Linked DNA regions of Homo sapiens: region 1 is linked to region 2. Evidence: fine-mapped QTL for protein levels in blood plasma. A gene starts in region 2. The other region holds a variant in brackets. All regions are shown on one strand. Distances are from middle to middle.

Region 1 (7,975 bases), 17 kb before region 2:
GACAGCGGGGCCTGTGCTGGGGAGCCTCACTTCCTCCCCACCTGCCGGCTGCCTCCGCTATATCTCTCTAGTCTGTTCCCCTGTCCCGCAGGAGTGCCCCTGAGCCCCAGCCCTGGCCTTCCCAGGATCCCAGGGCAGCACCATCCAATGGCAATGGGCCTGGGGCGGCTTCCTGGCTTCCTCCTTGTCCCTCTAAGAGCCCCGGCCCCTCTTTCTGCGTGGGGGCCAGAGACCTGGGCCTCCTCATCCCCATGGACCTTGAATACCTGGACTTCTGGGGCTCTGAGGGGCTGAGAGCCCAGACACTGGGTTCCCCAAAGGGCTGGGGGTATTGACTGATGGTCCCCAAGGGCCTGGAGGCCCAGACTACTGGGTTGCCGAGGAACTGTGGGTTTAGACTTCTGGGTACCCAAGGAGTTATGGAATTAGATTCGTGGGTCCCCAGTGAGTTATGGATCTAGATTTCTAGGTCCCCAATGGACTAGAGGCCTAGACTCCTGGGTCCCCCAGAGGCAGGAGGTGGAGATGCTGGTTCCTGTCTGCCAGGATCTTGGCCCCTGAATACCCCGTGGGGGGCACTCCTGACCCCGGACCCCATGCCTGGGGTTCCTCCCCTAACCTGCCTCTCGGCCGCCAGGACGCCGTGGAGGACCGGCTGGACAGGAACCTGTGGCCCTTCGTATCCGACCCCGCCCCCACGGCCAGCTCCCAGGCCGCTGTCAGGTGAGGCCCCGGGGCCGCCCCCGCCCACGCCTGGGTCTGTGTTAGGTGGGCGGCCTGGCGGCGGTGAGGGCCTCCTGCCTGGACTTTCTGCCCCTGCCCTGCACAGTGCCCGCTTCGGTCACTGGCACAAGAACAAGGCTGGCATAGAAGCCCGGGCGGGCCCCCGGCTCATCGTGTATGTCATGGGCGGTGTGGCCATGTCAGAGATGAGGGCCGCCTACGAGGTGACCAGGGCCACCGAGGGCAAGTGGGAGGTGCTCATTGGTAAGTCACCAGGACTGGGACCCTGGGGTCTGGGGCTTGGGTTCCCGGGGCCTGGGCTTGTACCTTCTAGGTGTCTGGACTCCAGAGTCCTTGGAGTCAGGGACCTGGTTTGCTGAGGGACAGGGACAGCCCCACACCAGCCGGGACCGGGAGCCTGTCAAAGACGAAGGCAGCGCCCCCCAACATCTTCCCCAAACCTCTGCCCCTGCACAGGCTCCTCACACATCCTCACCCCGACCCGCTTCCTGGATGACCTGAAGGCACTGGACAAGAAGCTGGAGGACATTGCCCTGCCCTGACCCCTGGCCCCGCCCCCTACCCCTCCCTTTCCAGAGAAATAAACTCTTCCCGTCGCTCTGCCAGCCAGTGCCTACCTCACCTTCTTATCAAGGGAGTCCCTGGGAGTTGTGCTGAGCCAGGCCTGTGCCCCAGGCCCCACCAACCCCTATTATCCTCTCAGAAGGAGAATTAGCCTCTCCCTGCCCCTGAGGGCATCTCAAGCCCTCATGGAGGTTAAGAACTTGGACTTTTGGCAGGGCACGGTGGCTCACGCCTGTAATCCCAGCACTTTGGGAGGCCAAGGCGGGAGGATCACTTGAGGTCAGGACTTCAAGACCAGCCTGGCCAACATGGTGAAAACCCATCTCTACTAGAAATACAAAACAACTAGCTGGGTGTGGTGGTGTGCACCTGTAGTCCCAGCTACTTGGGAGGCTGAGGCAGGAGAATCACTTGAACCCAGGATGTGGAGGCTGCAGTGAGCCGAGATTGCCCCTTTGCACTCCAACCTGGGCAACAAAGCGAGACTCCGTCTCAAAAAAAAAAAAATTGGACTCTCATTTGAATATCAGCTCTAAGATATTCTAGCGGTGAGGCCCTGACCAACTTCCGGGGTTCCCAATCTAAAAACAGGGAGCCCAAAATAGCAGCTGCTTTGCAGAGGAGAGAACAGAGATAGCGCAGGAAGGCTGGTGGCGTGCAAGCATGACAGCTGCTGCTACCCCATTTTCACTGGAACCATTTTGGCTGCTCCGTTAATATTGTTATTAAGCAGAATGGACCCTGGAACTCCAACCCCCCTAGAACTGTTCCAAGGGGACCTGTAGGCATACGATGCCAGGAGTTGTGTTCAGCTTCTGCTGTATTCATGTGAGGCACACAGCAAACGCTCCCTGCTTTCTCCTCCCAGCCCCACGGGGTTCACAGAGACTCCTGACTGCAGGACTTATCAGGGCCTTCGGTGGGTGTATCTGTTTGCTAGGGCTGTCATAACAAAGTACCACAGACTAGGTGACTTAACAGAAATTGCCAGGCACCGTGGCTCATGCCTGTAGTCGCACATTGGGAGGCCAAGGCAGGTTGATCACTTGAGGCCAGGAGTTCAAGACTAGCCTGGGCAACATAGTGAGATCCTGTGTCTACAAAAAAATAGAATTAGCTGAATGTAGTGGTGTGCACCGTGGTCCCAGCTACTCAGGAGGCTGAGGTGGGAGGATCATTTGAGCCTGGGAGGCAGAGGTTGCAGTGAGCCAAGACCGTGCCAGTGCACTCCAGCCTTGGGTGACAAAAGCGAGACCTCCATCTCAAAAACAAAACTATAATCCCAGCACTTTGAGAGGCTGAGGCAGGTGGATCACCTGAGGTCAGGAGTTCAAGACAAGCCTGGCCAACATGGTGAAACCTTGTCTCTACTAAAAATACAAAAATTAGCCAGGTGTGGTGGTGGACACCTGTGGTACCAGCTACTTGGGAGGCTGAGGCAGGAGAATTACACTACGCCTCCTTCGGGAGGCGGAGGTTGTAGTGAGCTGAGATCGCACCGTTGCACTCCAGCCTGGGCAACAGAGCAAGACTCTGTCTCAAAGCAAACACATTTATAGTCTTCTGTTTCTAGAGACTGGAAGTCCAAGATGAAGATGTCCACAGGTGTGACTCCTTCTGAAGCTTCTCTCCTTTCCTTGTAGACAGCTGTGTTTTCCCTGTGTGTTCACACAGTCTCCTCCCCCCGCCCCAGTGCATGTCTGTGTCCTAATCTGCTCTTCTTACAAGGAAACTGGTCATGTTGGATTAGGGCCCACGCATATGACCTCATTTTTACTTAATTATTTCTTTAAAGATTCTATCTCCAAGTATAGTCACTTTCTGAGGCAGTTGCGGGGCAGGACTTCAGCATAGACATTTGTGGAGAGGACACAGTTCAGCCCATAGCACTCAAGTGAGGTGTGAATCTCACAGCACCAATAGAACAGGAGAGGCCGGGCGAGGTAGCTTACACCTGTAATCCCAGTGCTTTGGGAGGCCTAGGTGGGAGGATCGCTTGGGCCCAGGAGTTTGAGACCAGCCTGGGCGGCATAACACGATCCTATCTCTACAAAAAAATTTTAAAATTAAATTTTTTTAAAATTTTTTTATGGGCATGGTGTCTTGCACCTGGGGTCCAGTTTACTCAGGAGACTGAGGTGGGAGATCGCTTGAGGCTAGGAGTTTAAGACCAGCCTGGGCAACATAGCAAGACCCCATCTCTACAAAAAATAAGAAAAATTAGTCAGGCACGTGATGGCACACGCCTGTAGTCCCAGCTGCTCAGGACTTTCAGGTGGAAGGATTGCTTGA[G/A]CCCGGGAGGTTGAGACTGCAATGAGCTATGATCATGCCACTGCACTCCAGCCTGGGTGGCAAGGTGACACCCTATCTCAAAAAAAAAAAAAAAAAAGAAAAAGGAAAAGAAACCTCTCTGGGGCACAGATATACAGCCAGCCACATGAGTAATCTGAGGCAAAAGGGGCTGTGGGAGCCCATATCACATCTAATCCACCCAGACTGGGGGCAATCAGGGAAGGCTTCCTAGAGGAGGCAGCATTTGCATAGAGAATGAAAATGAAGGGGGCGAAGGGAAGGGAGGGGAGGGCAGAGCAGAAGCCAAGGCCAGAGAATGCAGGAGGCCCCTGAGGAGCTGGAGGGGAGGGTACTGACCTGCAACCCAATCTGAGAACCACGTGGAGGTTCTGGTGAGGCCATGGTGAGGGTTTTGGTCCCTGCTGAGGCCATAGGACATCATAGACAGGGTCTGAGTTGGGACAGGTAGGGACCCATGTCTCATGTTGGCAGTGAAATTCTCACTGCTGGAGTGGGTGCCTGGGGAGGGGGCAGAGGGTGGGGAAGCATCCTCTTCAGAGGTAGAGCCTCTCTTACCGCCTGTGCTCAAGCGATCCTCCCACCTCAGCCTCCTGAGTAGCTGGGACCATGAGTGCACATCACCAAGCCCAGTTAATCTTTTAATTTTTTGTAGAGACTGGGTCTGGCTATGTTGCCCAGGCTGGTCTCCTGGGCTCAAGCGATCTGCCCACCTCGGCCTCCCAAAGTACTGGGATGACAGGCGTGAGCCACCGTGCCCGGCCTCTCTCCTGATTTTGAGGTCACAGATCCTTTTGAGAATTCAGGGAAATCTAAGGACACTCATCCCAGAAAAACTGCACACACAATTTGCAGGTGGGGGCTAAGGAAAATGCAGCCCCCTCTGATTCAGCAGTTCCACAATTAGGATTTATCGGAATCTCCCACCAGGGCAGGGAGATGGATGAGGAGAGTTGTGAAGGGGATGAGGTGTGGGGAAGAAAGTGGGTCGGCTGTGGACCCCTGGGGTCCGCCTGCCCTGGATATGCCTTTGCAGGGCCTCAGCAGGGACGCGTTTTAACTTACGGGAGGTGCAGGGAGTGGGAGGGAGGTGGTTTTAATGTTTAAAACTTAAGCTCAAGGTCGGGCACAGTGGCTCACGCCTGCAATCCCAGCACTTTGGGAGGGCGAGGTGGGAGGATTGCTTGAGGCCAGGAGTTTGAGGCCAGCCTGGGCAACATAGCAAATTCCTAAATATATGTATTTTTGAGACAAGGTCTCACTCTGTTGCCCAGGCTGGAGTGCAGTGGTGCGATCTCGATTCACTGTAACCTCTGCCTCCTGGGTTCAAGCGATTCTCCTGCCTCAGCCTCCCAAAAAGCTGGGATCACAGACGTGCGACACCATGCCCAGCGAATTTTTGTACTTTTAGTAGAGATGGGGTTTTGCCATGTTGGCCAGGCTGGTCTCTAACTCCTGGGCTGAAGACCTCCCACCTCAGCCTCCCAAAATGCAGGAATTAGAGGTGTGAGCCACTGTGCCCAGCCAATCTCTACAATACTCTTTTTATTTTATTTTATATTATATTATATTTATTTATTTATTTATTTTTTGGAGATGGAGTCTCGCTCCGTCGCCCAGGCTGGAGTGCAGTGGCATGATCTCAGCTCACTGCAACCTCCGCCTCCCCGGTTCAACCGATTCTTCTGTCTCAGCCTCCCGAGTAGCTGGGACTACAGGTGCGTGCCACCACGCCCAGCTAATTTTTGTATTTTTAGTAGAGACGGGGTTTCACCATGTTGGCCGGGATGGTCTCGAACTCCTGACGCCGTGATCCACCTGCCTTGGCCTCCCAAAGTGCTGGGATTACAGGAGTGAGCCACCGCGCCCGGCCAATACTCGTTTTAATAAAAATTTTAAAATGTATTCACGCCTAACTGGGTAGTTACTTGATACAATAAATGATCTTTTCTAGATTAAGAAAAAAGAAAAAAAAACATTTAAACTCAATTTCCTGGGAAGCCGCAGTTTTGCGCCGGGAGTGGCTTGTGTAGGCACGCGCTGCGAACGCCAGGGGGCGCTGCGGCGCAATTTCCCGGTTTCTTTGATCTTCCGCGTCTGTAACTGGAGATGAGGTGACCCGAATTAGACACGACGGGGAAGTAGGTCAGGGGTTATTCCGTGGTTCTCAGCGGAGACAAAAGTCTGTTGCTTAAACCGCCTCTGCCTCTGCTCCTTACTTATACCCAGGTGATGCAATGTCTTCACACTAAAGGCAAATATTGAGTCTACAAATATTTATGTGTCCCTGTGGGCGGCGGCAGCTGACAATATCGGGTCCTAACGAGCACGAAGTCAAGCTCCCTCTGCACGCTTTATGCAGATCCTCAAAACCCTCCTGTGAGGATCGCTGGAGCCTAGGAGTTCGAGGCTGCAGTGAGCTATGATTGTGCCTCTGCCCTCCAGCCTGGGTGAGAAAGCGAGAAGTTGTGTTAAAAACAAAAAAAAAGTTGGGGGGCCGGGCGCGGTGGCTCACGTCTGTAATCCCAGCACTTTGGGAGGCCGAGGCGGGCGGATCACGAGGTCAGGAGTTCAAGACCAGTCTAGCCAACATGGTGAAACCCTGTCTCTACTAAAAATACAAAAATTAGCCGGGCGTGGTGGTGGGCGCCTGTAATCCCAGCTACTCGGGAGGCTGAGGCAGGAGAATCGCTTGAAACCGGAAGGCAGAGGTTGCAGTGAGCCATCATGCCACTGCACTCCAGCCTGGGCAACAAGAGCGAAACCCTGTCTCAAAAAAAAAAAAAAAATTATCCTTTGAGATCCCTTCCCCCAAGTCCATTTCCCATCTCATGGTGAACCTGGCTGCTGTTCTTCAAACACACCACACTGTCCCTGCCCCAGAACCTTTGCACCTGCTATTCCCATCATCCGCAATGCTGTGCCTTGCAAGCTATTGTACTCCTTCCTCCTTCCCTTCCCCAGCTGGGAGAGGCCCCTGCTTTACTTCCTTGTGGTATCCCCACTTAGGGTGCTTTCTTTCTGGTTCTCTTCTGGTACCGAGGAATGATCCTCATTCTGGATTTGGCAGGTTGCTTCCTCTCTCCCCATCCCTGCCCCAATGTTTACCCTATAAATGGCTTAGAACCACATGCTCTATTGGAATAAGGGTCAGTTGCAGCCAGAATAATATCATGCTGGTAGGGCCGGGTACTTCCTGGTACATCACATCAGGGGGTCCATAACGTCATGTCACTACGATTGATGGGTGGGTTTGGGGAATGTCCCTGGTCCCCAGTAACTCTCCACATAAAGATGTTAACAGGAGCTGGGCCCAGTGGCTCACGCCTGTAGTTCCCAGCACTTTGGGAGGCCAAGGCAGGAGGATCACTTAGGCCCAGGAGTTTGAGACCAGCCTGGGCAACATAGCAAAACCCTGTCTCTACTAAAAATAAAATAAAGACCGGGCACGGTGGCTCATACCTGTAATCCCAGCACTTTGGGAGGCTGAGATGGGCGGATCACTTGAGGTCAGGAGTTCAAGACCAGCCTGGCCAACATGATGAAACCCCGTCTCTACCAAAAAACCAAAAATTAACCAGGCGTGGTGGTGCACACCTGTTATCCCAGCTACTCAGGAAGCTGAGGTAGGAGAATAACTTGAATCCAGGAGGCGGAGGTTGCAGTGAGCTGAGATCATGCCATTGCACTCCAGCCTGGGTGACAGAGTAAGACTCTGTCTCAAAAAATAAATAAATAAAATACAACAAAATAAAATAATTAGCCAGATGTGGCAGCAATTGCTTGTAGTCCCAGCTACATGGGAGGCTGAGGTGGGAAGATCACTTGAGTCCAAGAGGTTGAGGCTGCACTGAGTTATGATCTCGGCACTGCACTCCAGTTTGGGCGATAGAGTGAGACCCTGTCTCATAAAAAATAAAAATAAAAAAGGAAAGAAAAGAAAAAAAGTCATTAGCAGCCATCAATTTTGTTGTTGTTATTGTTTGTTTGTTTGTTTTTGAGATAGAGTTTCGCTCTTGTTGCCCAGGCTGGAGTGCAGTGATGCAATCTTGGCTCACTGCAATCTCCACCTCCAGGGTTCAATCAATTCTCCTGCCTCAGCCTCCCAAGAAGCTGGGACTACAAGCATGAGCCACCATGCCAGGCTAATTTTTGTATTTTTAGTAGAGACGGGGTCTCACCATGGTGGCCAAGCTGGTCTTGAACTCCTGACCTCAAATGATTCACCTGCCTCATCCTCCTAAAGTGCTGGGATTACAGGCATCAGCCACCGTGCCTGGCCCGCCATCCATTTTTGATTCATTACTCTCTTGAGGATTATGTCCAACTTTATCATTCCTGCTACTGGAATTAGCTG
Region 2 (14,268 bases):
CCAGTTTGGGCAACAGAGCGAGACTCCGTCTCAAAAAAATGAAAAAATAAATAAAAGTTGATAAAGAGGGCTGGCCATGGTGGCTTATGCCTGTAATTCCAGCACTTTGGGAGGCCAAGGCAGGCAGATCACTTGAGGCCAGGAGTTTGAGACCAGCCTGGGCAACATGGTGAAACCCCATCTCTATGAAAAATACAAAAATTAGTTGGGCGTGGTGGTGTGTGCCTGTGGTCCCAGCACTTTGGGAGGCCGAAGTGGGTGGATCACTTGAGGTCAAGAGTTCGAGACCAACCTGGCCAACATGGAGAAACCCTGTCTCTACTAAAAATACAAAAATTAGCTGGGTGTAGTGGCGCGTGCCTGTGGTCCCACCTACTCAGGAGGCTGAGGCAGGAGAATTGCTTGAACCCGAGAGGCGAAGGTTGCAGTGAGCCGAGATTGTGCCACTGCACGCCAACCTGGGCAACAGAGTGAGACCCTGTCTCAAAAAAAAAAAAAAATTTAAAAAGTTGAAAAAGAAAAACAATGCATGAAACCAAACACATAAGATAGGCACATTCTACTGTATGTAAATTACACATCAACAAAATGGATTTTTCAAAAATCACTGTTTCTGGGATTTTATTAGATAGCATTTGGTACAAAATTGAGGTCAGTAGAGCTCAGTTTTACTGGTAGAAATCAGAGGAAGTTAAAGGATTTTATGTTTTAGAAGAGAATTAAGGGGCATATTGCCTTTTCCTGCTACTGAACCAAGAGTTTTCAAACTGGGTCCCTAGGGAACCCTAGAGGTTCCATGCCTACCCTGCTTTCTCCTCAATCTGTCATCACAGCTGCCCACTCCTTTTGTGTCGTTCAAAAGGTTTTACCCGAAGAGTTCTGAGAACAAAGGGTTTGAAAATCAGAGCTCTCAAAAAATGATTTTTCTTTTTCTTCTTTTTTTTTGAGACGGGATCTTGCTTTGTTGTCCAGGCTGGAGTGCAGTGATGCCATCATAGCTCATTGCAGTCTCAGCCTTCCTGGGCTCAAGTGATCCTCACACCCCAGCCTCCTCAGTAGCTGGGACTACCAGCATGGACCACCACACCCAGCTAATTTTTTTCCATTGATTGATTGATTGATTGATTGAGACCAAGGCTCACTCTGTCGCCCAGGCTGGAGTGCAGTGGTGCAATCTCAGCTCACTGCAACCTCCACCTCCTGGGTTCAAGTGATTTTCCTGCCTCAGCCTCCCGAGTAGCTGGGATTACAGGTGCCCGCCACCACGCCCATCTAATTTTTGTATTTTTAGTAGAGACGGGGTTTCGCCATGTTGGCCAGGCTGGTCTCGAACTCCTGACCTCAGGTGATCTGCCCACCTTGGCCTCCCAAAGTGCTGGGATTACAGGCGTGAACCACTGCGCCCGGCTTTTTCCCTTTTATCTTTGTAGAGATGGGGTCTTGTTATGTTGTCCAGGCTGGTCTCAAGCTCCTGGCCTCAAGCGATCCTCCTGCCTCAGCCTCCCAAAGCACAAGGATGACAGGCGTGAGCCACTGCACCTGGCAATAACATGGTTTCTGTCTCTTTTCAAGCTACCCTTTGTCCAGGGTGTGTCAAAGAGTAGCTCAAGAAGAGACAGAAGTCATGTCTTCAAGGAGGCAGGATGAGCTGGGACTTGAGCATGGGGAAATATCTGGACAAAAACGGACTTGAAAGTTCCTGCTAGGACCAGAAGAGACAGGGAGCCTGTGGAATTCACTTTTCCCCTCTAGATCCCCTGTCCCACAAATTTGCTTTCAGTTCCTCTAAATACACACACTCCATTCTGCCTCAGGTCCTTGGAACATGCAGTCCTCTCCCTCCACCCAGAAGGCCCTCCCTAACTGCCTCTCCTGGTTAACCCTTCTGCATCCTCCACCCTCCCTTCAAACATCTTTTCCTCCCCCCAAAATACTTTCTGGATTCCCCCATGTGGGGTTGATTTTTAGGTCAGAGGTTCTCACGGAAAAGGGTTCCTCTCCTTGGGAGATGGAAGGGTCCTTGAGGCTGATGGCTGATTGAGCATTCTATTGGTGTTTTTTGTTGTTGTTTTTTTGTTTTCTTTTTTTTAGAGATGGGGTCTTGCTCTGTTGTCCAGGCTGGAGTGCAGTGGTGCGATCATAGCTCACTGCAGTCTCCAACTCCTGGACTCAAGCGGTACTTCTGTCTCAGCCTCCTGAGTAGCTGGGACTACAGGAAGCCACCACCATCCCTGCCTAATGTTTTCTTACGTTTTGTACAGAGGGAGGGTCTCACTGTGTTGGCCAGGCTGGTCTTGAACTCCTGGGCTCAAGTGATCCACCCACCTCGGTCTCCTAAAGCACTGGGATTACAGGTGTGAGCCATGGCGCCCGGACTTTTTTTTTTTTTTTTGAGATGGAGTTTTGCTTTTTGTTGCCCAGGCTGGAAAGCAATGGCACAACCTTGGCTCACCACAACCTCCGCCTCCCGGGTTCAAGCAATTCTCCTGCCTCAGCCTCCCGAGTAACTAGGATTACAGCTACCCACCTGGTGTGCCACCACGCCTGGCTAATTTTGTGTTTTTAGTAGAAAAGGGGTTTCTCCATGTTGGTCACGCTGGTCTCGAACTCCCGACCTCAGGTGATCCACCCGCCTCGGCCTCCCAAAAGGCTGGGATTACAAGCATGAGCCACCGCGCCTGGCCCATTGCCCGGCCTTTTTATTGCTGTTCTGTTGGTGTCTGCCTTTCCCTGACTGACAAGGGCCAACTCGTCCCGGGCAAGGGCAGCATCCCTCTGCTTCTTAGTGTATGCATGGTGTTTAACACAGCATATGGAACATAATAGTTGCTCAATAAATATTGCCTGCGCTTTGAACCTGTGTGCACCGTTGCATTTACACAGGGCTTTAATACACATGCATCATGTTGATTGAAATATAAATACATAGAGAAAATTGTGCAAATGAGAGTTACAGCTGAAAACTTTTACAAAATTCCCCCCTCACTAGGGGCCTTCCTGGTATGCTTTTATCACCACTATCTCTGATTCCCCAGGACTCTTCCATCGTCATTTCCGACAGCATAAATTAGTTTTGTTTGTATTTCATTTATTATTATTATCATTATTGTGAGACGGAGTCTCTCTCTGTTGCCCAGGCTGGAGTGCAGTAGCATGATTTCAGCTCACTGCAACCTCCACCTCTTGGTTCAAGCGATTCTCCTCCCTCAGCATCCCGAGTAGCTGGGATTACAGGCACCTGCCGCTACACCTGGCTAATTTTTGTATTTTTAGGTATTTTTTTTTTTTTTTGAGACGGAGTCTTGCTCTGTCGCCCAGGCTGGAGTGCAGTGGCGCCATCTCGGCTCACTGCAAGCTCCGCCTCCCGGGTTCACACCGTTCTCCTGCCTCAGCCTCCCGAGGAGCTGGGACTGCAGGTGCCTGCCACCACGCCCGGCTAATTTTTTTGGATTTTTAGTAGAGATGGGGTTTCACCGTGTTAGCCAGGATGGTCTTGATCTCCTGACCTTGTGATCCGCCTGCCTTGGCCTCCCAAAGTGCTGGGATTACAGGCAGGAGCCACCGCGCCCGGCCCCCTTTTTTTTTAATAAATGGATTTGTATGGTATGTTCTTTTTGGGGTCTGGCTTCTATGCTAACATATGTTCGTGAGAATCAGCCACATGGTTGGGTGTAGCTGTAATCCATGGACAGTTGTCTCATTCTCACTCATCACCACATACCAGGGGTACAAAAAAATGTTTTCTGTAACGAGTCAGATAGTAAACATTCTCAGCTTTGGGGGCCCTACTGTCCAACCACTCTACAGCTGCTGAGCTCTGCCATGGACATGTGATAGCAGTCACTGATGATATATTAAAAAATGGGGCCAGGTGCAGTGGCTCATGCCTATAGTCTCAGCACTCTGGGAGGCCAAGGCGGGCGGATCACTTGAGATCAGGAGATCGAAGCCAGCCTGGCTAACATGGCGAAATCCCATCTCTACTAAAAATACAAAAATTAGCCGGACATGGTGGCGCACCTGCCTATAATCCCAGCTACTCGGGAGGCTGAGGCAGGAGAATCGCTTTAACCCGGGAGGCAGAGGTTGCGGTGAGCCAAGGTCGTGCCACTGCACTCCAGCCTGGGTGACAAGAGCGAGTCTCCCTCTCAAAAAAAAGGGGGTAGCAAACTGTGTGTGTGTGTTTGTAGGGACAGGATCTCACTATGTTGCTCAGGCTGCCCTCAAACTCCTGGGCTCAAACAATCCTCCTGCTTTGGTCTCTCAAGTAGCTAGGATGACAGGTGCCTGCCACTGAGCTTGGCAATTTTTTTTTTTTTTGAGACAGAGTTTCGCTCTTGTTGCCCAGGCTGGAGTGCAAGGGCACCATCTTGACTCACTGCAACCTCCACCTCCCGGGTTCAAGCAATTCTCCTGCCTCGGCCTCTCAAGTAGCTGGGATTACAGTCGCGTGCCACCACACCCGGCTAATTTTGTATTGTAAGTAGTGATGGGGTTTCACCACATTGGCCAGGCTGGTCTTGAACTCCTGACCTCAGGTGATCCACCCGCCTTAGCCTCCCAAAGTGCTGTGATTACAGGCATGAGCCACCGCACCCAGCTGACAATGTTTTAAGAAAATTTTCTTTATGGACTTTTTATGAAAATTATATGAATTTGAATTTTATATGATTTCTATTTTCACTAAACATTACAAATATTTTTTGGCTAGGCACAGTGGCTCATGCCTGTAATCTCAGTGCTTTGGGAAGCTAAGGTGGCAGGATCTTTTGAGGCCAGGAGTTTGAGACCAGCCTGGGCAATAGAGTGAGACCCCACCTCTACAAAAAAATTAAAAAAATTAGTTAGGTGTGGTGACACATGCCGTAGTCCCACCTACTCAAGAGGCTGATGAGGGGGGGATTGCTTGAGCCCAGGAGTTTGAGGCTGCAGTGAGCTATGATTGCACCATTGCACTCCAGCGTGGAAAACAGAGCCAGACTGTGTCTTTTTTAAAAAAAAAACAACTTTTTTTTCCCTATGGTTTAAAAATGTGAAAATTGGCAGTGCCTCAAAAAGTTAAACATAGAATTACCATATGATCAGGCAGCACTACTCCTGGACATACGCCCAGAAGAATTGAAAGCAGGAGCTGCAAACAGATATTTGCACATCTATGTTCAGAGCAGCATTATTCACAATAGCCAAAAGGCAGAAGCAGGCCAGGCACAGTGGCTCACACCTGTAATCCCAGGACTTTGGGAGGCCGAGGCAGGCGGATCACTCCAGATCAGGAGTTTGAGACCAGCCTGGCCAACATGGCAAAACCCCATCTCTACTAAAAATACAAAAGAAAAAAAAATTAGCCAGGTGTGGTGGTGGCACATGCCTGTAATCCTGGCTACTCGGAGGCCGAGGCAGGATAATCACTTAAACCCAGGAGTCAGAGGTTGCAGTGAGCCAAGATCGTGCCACTTGCACTCCAGCCTGGGTGACAAGAGCGAAACTCTGTCTCAAAAAAACAAAAAACAAAAACCTTTTAGATCCGCCATCTGTGGTGGAGCCGCCACCAAAATGTAGATTTTCCTGAAAACCCTTACAGGGAAGACCACCACCCTCGAGGCTGAACCCTCAGATATGGTAGAAAATGTAAAGGCCAAGATCCAGGGTAAAGAAAGAATTCCTCCTGATCAGCAAAGACAAGCACTGGAAGATGGGCGTACTCTGTCTGACTACAACATTCAAAAGGAGTCTCCTCTTCATCTTGTATTGAGAATTCGTGGTGGTGCTAAGGAAAGGAAGAAGTCTTTTTTTTATTTTTTTTGAGATGGAGTCTCGCTCTGTAGCTCAGGCTGGAGTGCAGTGGTGCAATCTCGGCTCACTGCAACCTCTGCCTCCCGGGTCCCAGTTCAAGCAATTCTCCTGCCTCAGCCTCCCGAGTAGCTGGGATTACAGGCACGTGCCACCACGCCCAGCTAATTTTTGTATTTTTAGTAGAGACAGGATTTCACCATGTTGGCCAGGCTGGTCTTGAACTCCTGACCTCGTGATCCACCTGCCTCGGCCTCCCAAAGTGCTGGGATTACAGGCCTGAGCCACTGAGCCCGGCCAGAAGAAGAAGTCTTACCTGCAAGACGAATAAGCACAAGAGAAAGAAGGTGAAGCTGGCTGTCCTGAAATATTATAAGGTGGATGAGAATGGCAAAATTAGTCACCTTCGTCGAGGTTGCCCTTCTGATGAATGTGGTGCTGCAGTGTTTATGGCAAGCCACTTTGACAGACATTATTGTGGCAAATGTTGTCTGACTTACTGCTTCAACAAACCAGAAGACAAATAACTGTATGAATTAACAAAAGACGGCCAGGCGCAGTGGCTTACACCTGTAATCCCAGCACTTTGGGAGGCCGAGACGGGCGGATCACAAGGTCAGGAGATCGAGACCATCCTGGCTAACATGGTGAAACCCCGTCTCTACTAAAAATACAAAAAAATTAGCTGGGCATGGTGGCGGGCGCCTATAGTCCCAGCTACTCGGGAGGCTGAGGCAGGAGAATGGAGTGAACCCGGGAGGCGGAGCTTGCAGTGAGCCGAGATCGTGCCACTGCACTCCAGCCAGGGCAACAGAGTGAGACTCCATCTCAAAAAAGAAAGAAAACCCACAAAAGACGTGAACTAACAAAAACAAACAAACAAACAAAAAAACAAAACAAAAGCTGGAAGCAACCCAAGTGTCCATCGATGGATGAAGGAATAAACACAACGTGGTTCATCCACACAAGGGAATGTGATACAGCCATGGAAAGGAAAACAGTTCTGACTCAGGCTACAGCAGGGATGAACCTTGGGGATATTATGCTCAGTGAAATAAGCAGATACAAAAGGACAAACACTGTGTGATTCCACTCCTAGGAGGTCCCTAGAGTCATCAGATCCATAGAGGCAGAAAGCAAGATGGAGGGTGCCAGGGGCTGGGGAGAGGGATAGGGAGTGAGTGTTTCATGGGGACAGAGTTTCAGTTTGGAAAGAGGAGAAAGTTCTGGAGATGGACGGCAGTGGTGGCTACATAACAACATGAATGTGCTTATTGCCACAGAATTGTGCTCTGAAAAATGGTTAAAATAGGCTGGGCATGGTGGCTCACACCTGTAATCCCGGCACTTTGGGAGGCTGAGGCGGGTGGATCACTTGAGGTCAGGAATTTGAGACCAGCCTGGCCAACATGGTGAAACCCCATCTCTACTAAAAATACAAAAAATTAGCCGGGCATGGTGGTGCACGCCTGTAATCCCAGCTACTCGGGAGGCTGAGGCAGGAGAATTGCTTGAACCCAGGAGGTGGAGGTTGCAGTGAGCCAAGATTGAGCCACTGTACTCCAGCCTGAGCAACTGAGTGAGACTCTGAAACAAAGAAACAAACAAAAGCAATGGTTAAAATGGAACAAGATGGTGCATACCTGTAGCTTCAGCTACTGGGGAGTCCAAGGTGGGAGGATTACTTGAAGCCAGGAGTCTGACACTAGCTTGGGCAACATAGCAAGACCCCGTCTCAAAAAAAAAAAAAAAAAGGCCGGGCACGGTGGTTCACGCCTGTAATCCCAGCACTTTGGGAGGCCAAGGCGGGCAGATCACAAGGTCAGGGGATCGAGACCATCCTGGCTAACACGGTGAAACTCCATCTCTACTAAAAAAAAAAAAATACAAAAAATTAGCTGGGCGTGGTGGCAGGCGCCTGTAGTCCCAGCTACTTGGGAGGCTGAAGCAGGAGAATGGCGTGAACCCAGGAGGCGGAGCTTGTAGTGAGCCGAGATCGCGCCACTGCACTCCAGCCTGGGCGACAGAGCAAGATTCCGTCTCAAAAAAGAAAAAAGTAAGTTATAATGGTAAGTTGTATGTTATATGTATTTTACCACAAAAAGGCCCGTTGTACTGGAAACAAAGAACAAATAAAAATGTAATAACCATTCCAAGCTCATGGGTGGTCCAAGAAGAAACATGAGCTGGACCTTGGCCCATGAGCAATGGCTTTCCAACTTCTGTTGCAGGTGATGCCATTGATGGAATAAACCATGATTTTTCTTTCTTCTTTTTGAGATGGAGTCTTGCTATGGTGCCCAAGCTAGTCATCCAGGATGGAGTGCAGGGGCACGATCTCAGTGCACTGCAACCTCCACATCCCGGGTTCAAGTGATTCTCCCACCTCAGCCTCCCAAGTAGCTGGGATTACAGGCACACGCCACCACGCCCAGTTAATTTTTGTATGTCTAATGGAGACAGGGTTTCATCATGTTGGCCAGGTTGGTCTCAAGCTCCTGACCTCAAGTGATCCGCCCGCCTTGGCCTCCCAAAGTGCTGGGATTACAGGCGTGAGCCACCGGCCATAAACCATGATTTTATTTACCAGTTCTATTGCTCATGGGCATTTGGGTATGAATGTGGTATGTCATTCTCACCCAGAGACATAATTATTATTACTATTTTAGAGAAGTGGTCTTGCTCTGTTGCCCAGACTGGAGTGCAGTGCTGTGATCATAAGTCACTGTAGCTTCGAACTCCCGGGCTCAAGCAATTCTCTCACGTCAGCCTCCTTAGTAGCTGGGACTACAAGTGCTTGTCCGCACCATGCCTAGCAAGAGGCATTAATTTTGTCATGTTTGCATCAGCCACCCTTGCATGCAAAACTCTGCTTGTCTACCTGTTCCTCAGACCACAGCCCCTGGCATTATCCCTGGGGCACCACCTCCTGACCAGTCTCTGGACATGAAGACGGAGGCCCTGTTGGAAGTGGGAAGGCTCCCTTCCTCCTCCAGCCCTTACTGTCTGCTCAGGGGCTTCCTCTTGGCCCCGGATGTGGGACCGGAGGGTTGGGGGCCCAGGGACTTATTAGCCAAGCCAGGAAGCCCCACCCCAAGAGGCCTCAAAGAAAGAGCTGCGGTGCAGGAATTCGTGTGCCGGATTTGGTTAGCTGAGCCCACCGAGAGGGTAAGTGACAGCTGCTCCTGCGCTTGCCATGGCACCAGCGGGGAGGCTGGGGTCAAGGCTGAGCCTCCATCCCTGTCCCCCACATGGGGGGACAGGGGTCCAGGTCCAGGGGCAGATCCTACTCCCTCCATGGGCCGGATCTTCCCCACAGGGCAGGGCTGATCCAGCTGTGGGTCTCTTGGTTCCCTCTTTCAGCGCCTGCAGGATGAAAGCTCTCTGTCTCCTCCTCCTCCCTGTCCTGGGGCTGTTGGTGTCTAGCAAGACCCTGTGCTCCATGGAAGAAGCCATCAATGAGAGGATCCAGGAGGTCGCCGGCTCCCTAAGTGAGGACCCCCCACTTGGGCAAGCTCCCCAAGGGTCTCAGAGACCTCACTGATCCCTGGCACAGACCTGACTCCAACCCAGCCCCAGCGCTCACCAAATCTCATCCTCAAATCCAACCAGATCATAAATTCAACCCCAACTCCACTCCCAACCCCTCCGACTGTCCCCACCTTATCCACGGCTCCAAACCCAATCCCCGCTCTCACTCCAAACCTTCCCTTACTCCAAAACACCCAACTCAAGACAGGGTCCTGGAGGCCAGTGAGCTCCTATGCCCACAGGGACCTAGCTCCAAACCAACAGGGCTAGGGGAGGATGGGGGAGGGACCGTTTGGTCTCACAGCTCCCCCTGTCTCCTTTCCTCCTGCCCCCCAGTATTTAGGGCAATAAGCAGCATTGGCCTGGAGTGCCAGAGCGTCACCTCCAGGGGGGACCTGGCTACTTGCCCCCGAGGTGAGTGCAGGAGACTGTTGTCCAGGCGCCCATTTCTGTTCCAAGTCCCCTGGGAATGCCCCCTCCCCGCCACGTTCCCCGTGTCCAGCCTCTACTCCCCTAGGATCTTGGTCCTGACTCCCAGCCTTCTCCGCCCACCATCTGGACACTGGTGTCCACCCTCACTCCCTGCCTCCAGTGCCCATTCAGTGGTTGGAGCCTCCAGCCGTCCCCGTCCCCACCCCCGCCCCCCCAACCCCCCTCCGCGCTCCCCACCCCCCTCCCGCTCCCACCCTCAGCCTCCCAGCTCAGAGTCCACGCTCCTGTGTTCCGGGCTGCAGGCTTCGCCGTCACCGGCTGCACTTGTGGCTCCGCCTGTGGCTCGTGGGATGTGCGCGCCGAGACCACATGTCACTGCCAGTGCGCGGGCATGGACTGGACCGGAGCGCGCTGCTGTCGTGTGCAGCCCTGAGGTCGCGCGCAGCGCGTGCACAGCGCGGGCGGAGGCGGCTCCAGGTCCGGAGGGGTTGCGGGGGAGCTGGAAATAAACCTGGAGATGATGATGATGATGATGATGATGATGATGGAGCGGATCTGAGCCCTGCGTGGTTTCTTTAGTAGGCCCGGAGGGACTGATCTAGCGTCTCCAAGAGAGTGGGGCGCGTAGCTGCTGGAGGGGGCGGGGACACCGCGACTTTCTACTGCCCCATCGCCCTTCCTCCTATGGGGTCTCCAACTGCTTCCTCCGAAAATAGGGCCTGAACTTCCTCTAGTGACGTCCCCACCCAAGGCTCATGGCTGCCTTCAAGAGGTGACGTCTCATCTTTGAGGCTACCTTGACGCTCACCCTGGGGTCTCCGACCTCCCCAGGAAGTGGCTGGGTCCTTTTCCCCCAGTCCTCATAATGAGGCTTCATCGAGGACCTGGGTCAGTCTGGGCAGTGGACGGGACCCTCCAGGGCCCCAAGACTCCAGGAGCCCCAGGTCAGGGTGGAACCCTGAATCATGTCTCAGCCCAGAGCTGGAACCTGTACCCCTCACTTCCTACCTGCAAGGAGGAATCCCCAAGGCACAGGCAAAGTTGGGTTACGGAGAGTCAGGGACGCCTACCTGACGTCACGCATCATCACAAGCTCACGTTTTCACACAGGCAAGTGCAGTTGTGAGTAGTTAGTTACAACCAGATACACGCAGGGTGCTTACCCCTTCCTGGATACTAGATTATGAAAACACAGAGCAGGGGACTTGTCTGCTCCTAGATCCCCCCCAGGGTTTCGTTTCTTCCCTTCCCTTCCCCTCCCCTCCCCTCCCCTCCCCTCCCCTCCCCTCCTCTCCCCTCTTCTCTTTTCTTTCTTTCTTTCTTTTTTTTTTTTTGAGACAGGGTCTCGCTCTGTTGCCCAGGCTGGAGTGCAGTGGTGCAATCTCGGCTCACCGCAACCTCTGCCTCCTGGGTTCAAGCGATTCTCCTGCCTCAGCCTCCCACGTAGCTGGGACTACAGGCGCTCGCCACCATACCTGGCTAATTTTTGTATTTTTAGTAGAGAAGGAGTTTCACCATGTTGGCTAGGTTGGTCTTGAGCTCCTGGCCTCAAGCGATTCACCCGCCTCAGCCTCCCAAAGTGCTGGGATTACATGCATGAGCCACCGCGCCTGGCCTATTTTTTAATTTTTATTTTCGAGACAAGGTCTTACTCTGGCGCCCAGGCTGGAGTGCAGTGGCACAATCTCGGCTCACTGCAACCTCTGCCTCCTGGGTTCAAGTGATATTCCTGCCTTAGCCTCTCAAGTAGCTGAGATTACAGGTGCCCACCACCATGCCCAGCTAATTTGTATTTTTAGTAGAGAGCGGGTTTCACCATGTTGGCCAGGCTAGTCTCAAACTCCTGACCTCAGGTGATCCACCCACCTCGGCCTTCCAAAGTGCTGGGATTACAGGCATGAGCCACTGCACCCAGCGCCCCCAGGGTTTAGAATAGAGCATGGAACACAGTAGACGTTCAGTAAATGTCTGTTGATCAGTAGCCACATGTGCACTTAGATACAGCACCGACGTGCACATACTGCACATGCACACACAGCTATACACAGCCACGTGCACACACAGAGTACACAACCCACCTACCACGGCCACATGGAGACACCACATCCACAGACACACCCATGTGCCCCTAGACACTCTTGGACACAGAAAGGCACCACCCCCCCGGCCAATGCACGGAGAATCGCAGATTTGACTATGGTGGGCAGAGATGATGCAGGACACAAACACACACATGCTCCAGGCAGACTCTTGCATTTCTGACTCTAGTCCCCACTGCACCTGGATAAGTATCTGATACCCTAGTGCAGCGATCCCCAACCTTTTTGGCACCAGAGACTGTTTTCATGGAAGACAGTTGGTGTGTGTATGGGGTAGGGGGGGAGCGGGGATGGTTTCTGGGTGATTCAAGCGCATTACATTTATTATTCACTTTATTTTTATTATTATGACATTGTAATATAGAATAAAATAATTCTACAACTCACCATAATGTGGAATCGGTGGGAGCCCTGAGCTTGTGTTCCTGCAACTAGATGGTCCCAGCTGAGGGTGATGGGAGACAGCGACAGATTACCAGGCATTTGATTCTTATAAGAAGTGAGAAAGCTACATCCCTCAAATGCGCAGTTCACGATGGGATTCTTGCTCCTATGAGAATCTAATGCTGCTGCTGGTCTGACAGGAGGTGGAGCTCAGGTGGTAATGCGAATGATGGGGAGTGGCTGTAAATACAGATGAAGCTTCTCTCGCTCGCCCACCACTCACCTCCTGCTGTGAGGCCCCGTTCCCAATGCCCGGTGGCTGGGGACCCCTGTTCTAGTGGGCAAAAGCCTCAGCATCCCCCGCCTCAGCTCCCTGGGGCACAAATTCAGGTGATTCGGGGTCCAGTTCTACAGGAAGCCTGACCCAGGAGTCTTGCCATCCAGTCCCTGATTTCCCACCACAGACTTCAGAATTCCTAGCACCTAGTCTTGAAAGGGATCCCAGACTCAAATGTCACACCTGGACAACAGATGATAGAGTGAGGTTCTGGTTTGCAGGATGTTTTGGACTCTCCTCCCACTGCCACCCACCCCCTGTGATGGTCCCAGCCCCCTGTCTGATGCTGGTGGCCATGAGCAGAGATTACAACCACTTCTGGTGCCAGGGACCCCACCCAGACTCCAGCCCAGGGATTCCCTTCCCAGACCCTCTCTCCTGACTCCACAGTGGTCATGGGGGTAGGGCAGGACCACTGAGTTAGAAGCATGGCCAGGGCCAGAGAGGGTGAGTCTAGTGCCTTGTGTGTGTCCCTGCCCCTTACTGCTGTGTGTGTGTGTTGGGGGCGGGGATGCTCCATTGTCCCCAGAACTATTTGTCTCCACCCCCATCCAATAGTCCTGTATCTGAAACCTAAGAGGGCTCTCTTCAGGTTCCTCAATTCCAACATAGACATTCTCCTGCCCCAGAGTGCAGACTTGGAGGTCATATCTGCCCAGGTGATGTGGACAGGCAAACCCCCTATTAGAGCCTCAATTTCCTCAATAGCTAATGCCTAGATCCCCTGTGGTAGGCAAGATATCCTCCTCCCTCCTCCCTCCTCCCTCCCTCCTTCCTCCTCCTCATCCTTCTCCTCCTCCTCCTTCTTCTTCTTCCTTTTTGAGATGGAGTCTCACTCTGTTGTCCAGGCTGGAGTGCAGTGGCACGATCTCAGCTCACTGCAACCTCCACCTCCAGGTTCAAGTGATTCTCCTGCTTCAGCCTCCTGAGTAGTTGGGATTGCAGGCGCCCACCACCACTCCTGGCTAATTTTTGTATTTTTAGTAGACACGGGGATTTCGCCATTTTGGCCAGGCTGGTCTCAAATTCCTGACCTTAAGTGATTCACCTGCCTCGGCCTTCCAAAGTGCTGGGATTACAGGCGTGGGCCACAGAGACCAGCCAAGGCAAGATTCTTCTGCTTGCAAGTACAACAGACCCCACTTCAAACTAGCTTGGGCAAAACTAAAAGGAAGTTTCTTGTTTGTGTAACTGACAAGCCCAGGGTTAGAACAACAGGTTCAGGTATGGCTTGGAACCAGGGTCTCAAATGATGTCTCCAGGACCCAGACTTCCTCTCGGGTCTGATTTTCTCAGCACTGCCTTTGCTCTCAAGTAAATTCTTCCCTGTCACAGCTCCCATTACATCCTCCCATTGTGGCAGCCCTAGTGAGGGCTGGAAAAAAAAGAGAATGCTTTTTCCCCCGTGGTTAAACCAATAAAAATCCCAGACCAGCGTTTCATTGGCTGGATCTTGCTCAAATGCCCGCCTCTCTGCCCAATCTTAGACTCTGGTTGGCTGGGTCTGGATCATTTGTCCACTGTAAACCAATCCCTAGCTTATGGTTTGCTGGATCTAGCACACATTTTCTTTCTTAAAAGAAAATTGAGAATGTTACCCTATGAAAGGGACGGGTGCTGGTCAGGCAGCTTTGCAGATGTTTCCCACATGACATGATTGCTTGTGGGCCTCTGGTTTAGCGTGACCTTTTTCTC

Evidence for each region. PIP is the chance, under the fine-mapping model, that this variant and not a neighbour inherited with it causes the effect. Protein levels are from antibody-based Olink assays in UK Biobank. Linkage for the fine-mapping came from a reference panel and not from the study's own genotypes, which makes the PIPs less certain.
Region 1: its variant is fine-mapped to the plasma level of the RETN protein (UK Biobank, PIP above 0.99).

Annotation. Positions count from the first base shown.
Region 1 is chr19:7,646,525-7,654,499 of GRCh38, forward strand. STXBP2 (syntaxin binding protein 2) reads left to right here. Exons shown (of 19, transcript NM_006949.4): 17 at 638-723; 18 at 830-987; 19 at 1,201-1,349. The coding sequence ends at 1,286. Among named protein-coding and RNA genes, the nearest start is that of STXBP2, 13 kb to the left of the region's middle. RefSeq lists an enhancer at 2,408-2,457. The variant G/A (reference allele first, on the strand shown) is at 3,601.
Region 2 is chr19:7,660,164-7,674,431 of GRCh38, forward strand. RETN (resistin) reads left to right here and starts at 8,886. Exons shown (of 4, transcript NM_020415.4): 1 at 8,886-8,958; 2 at 9,154-9,281; 3 at 9,658-9,735; 4 at 10,056-10,292. The coding sequence starts at 9,164. The coding sequence ends at 10,186. It also overlaps the pseudogene RPS27AP19.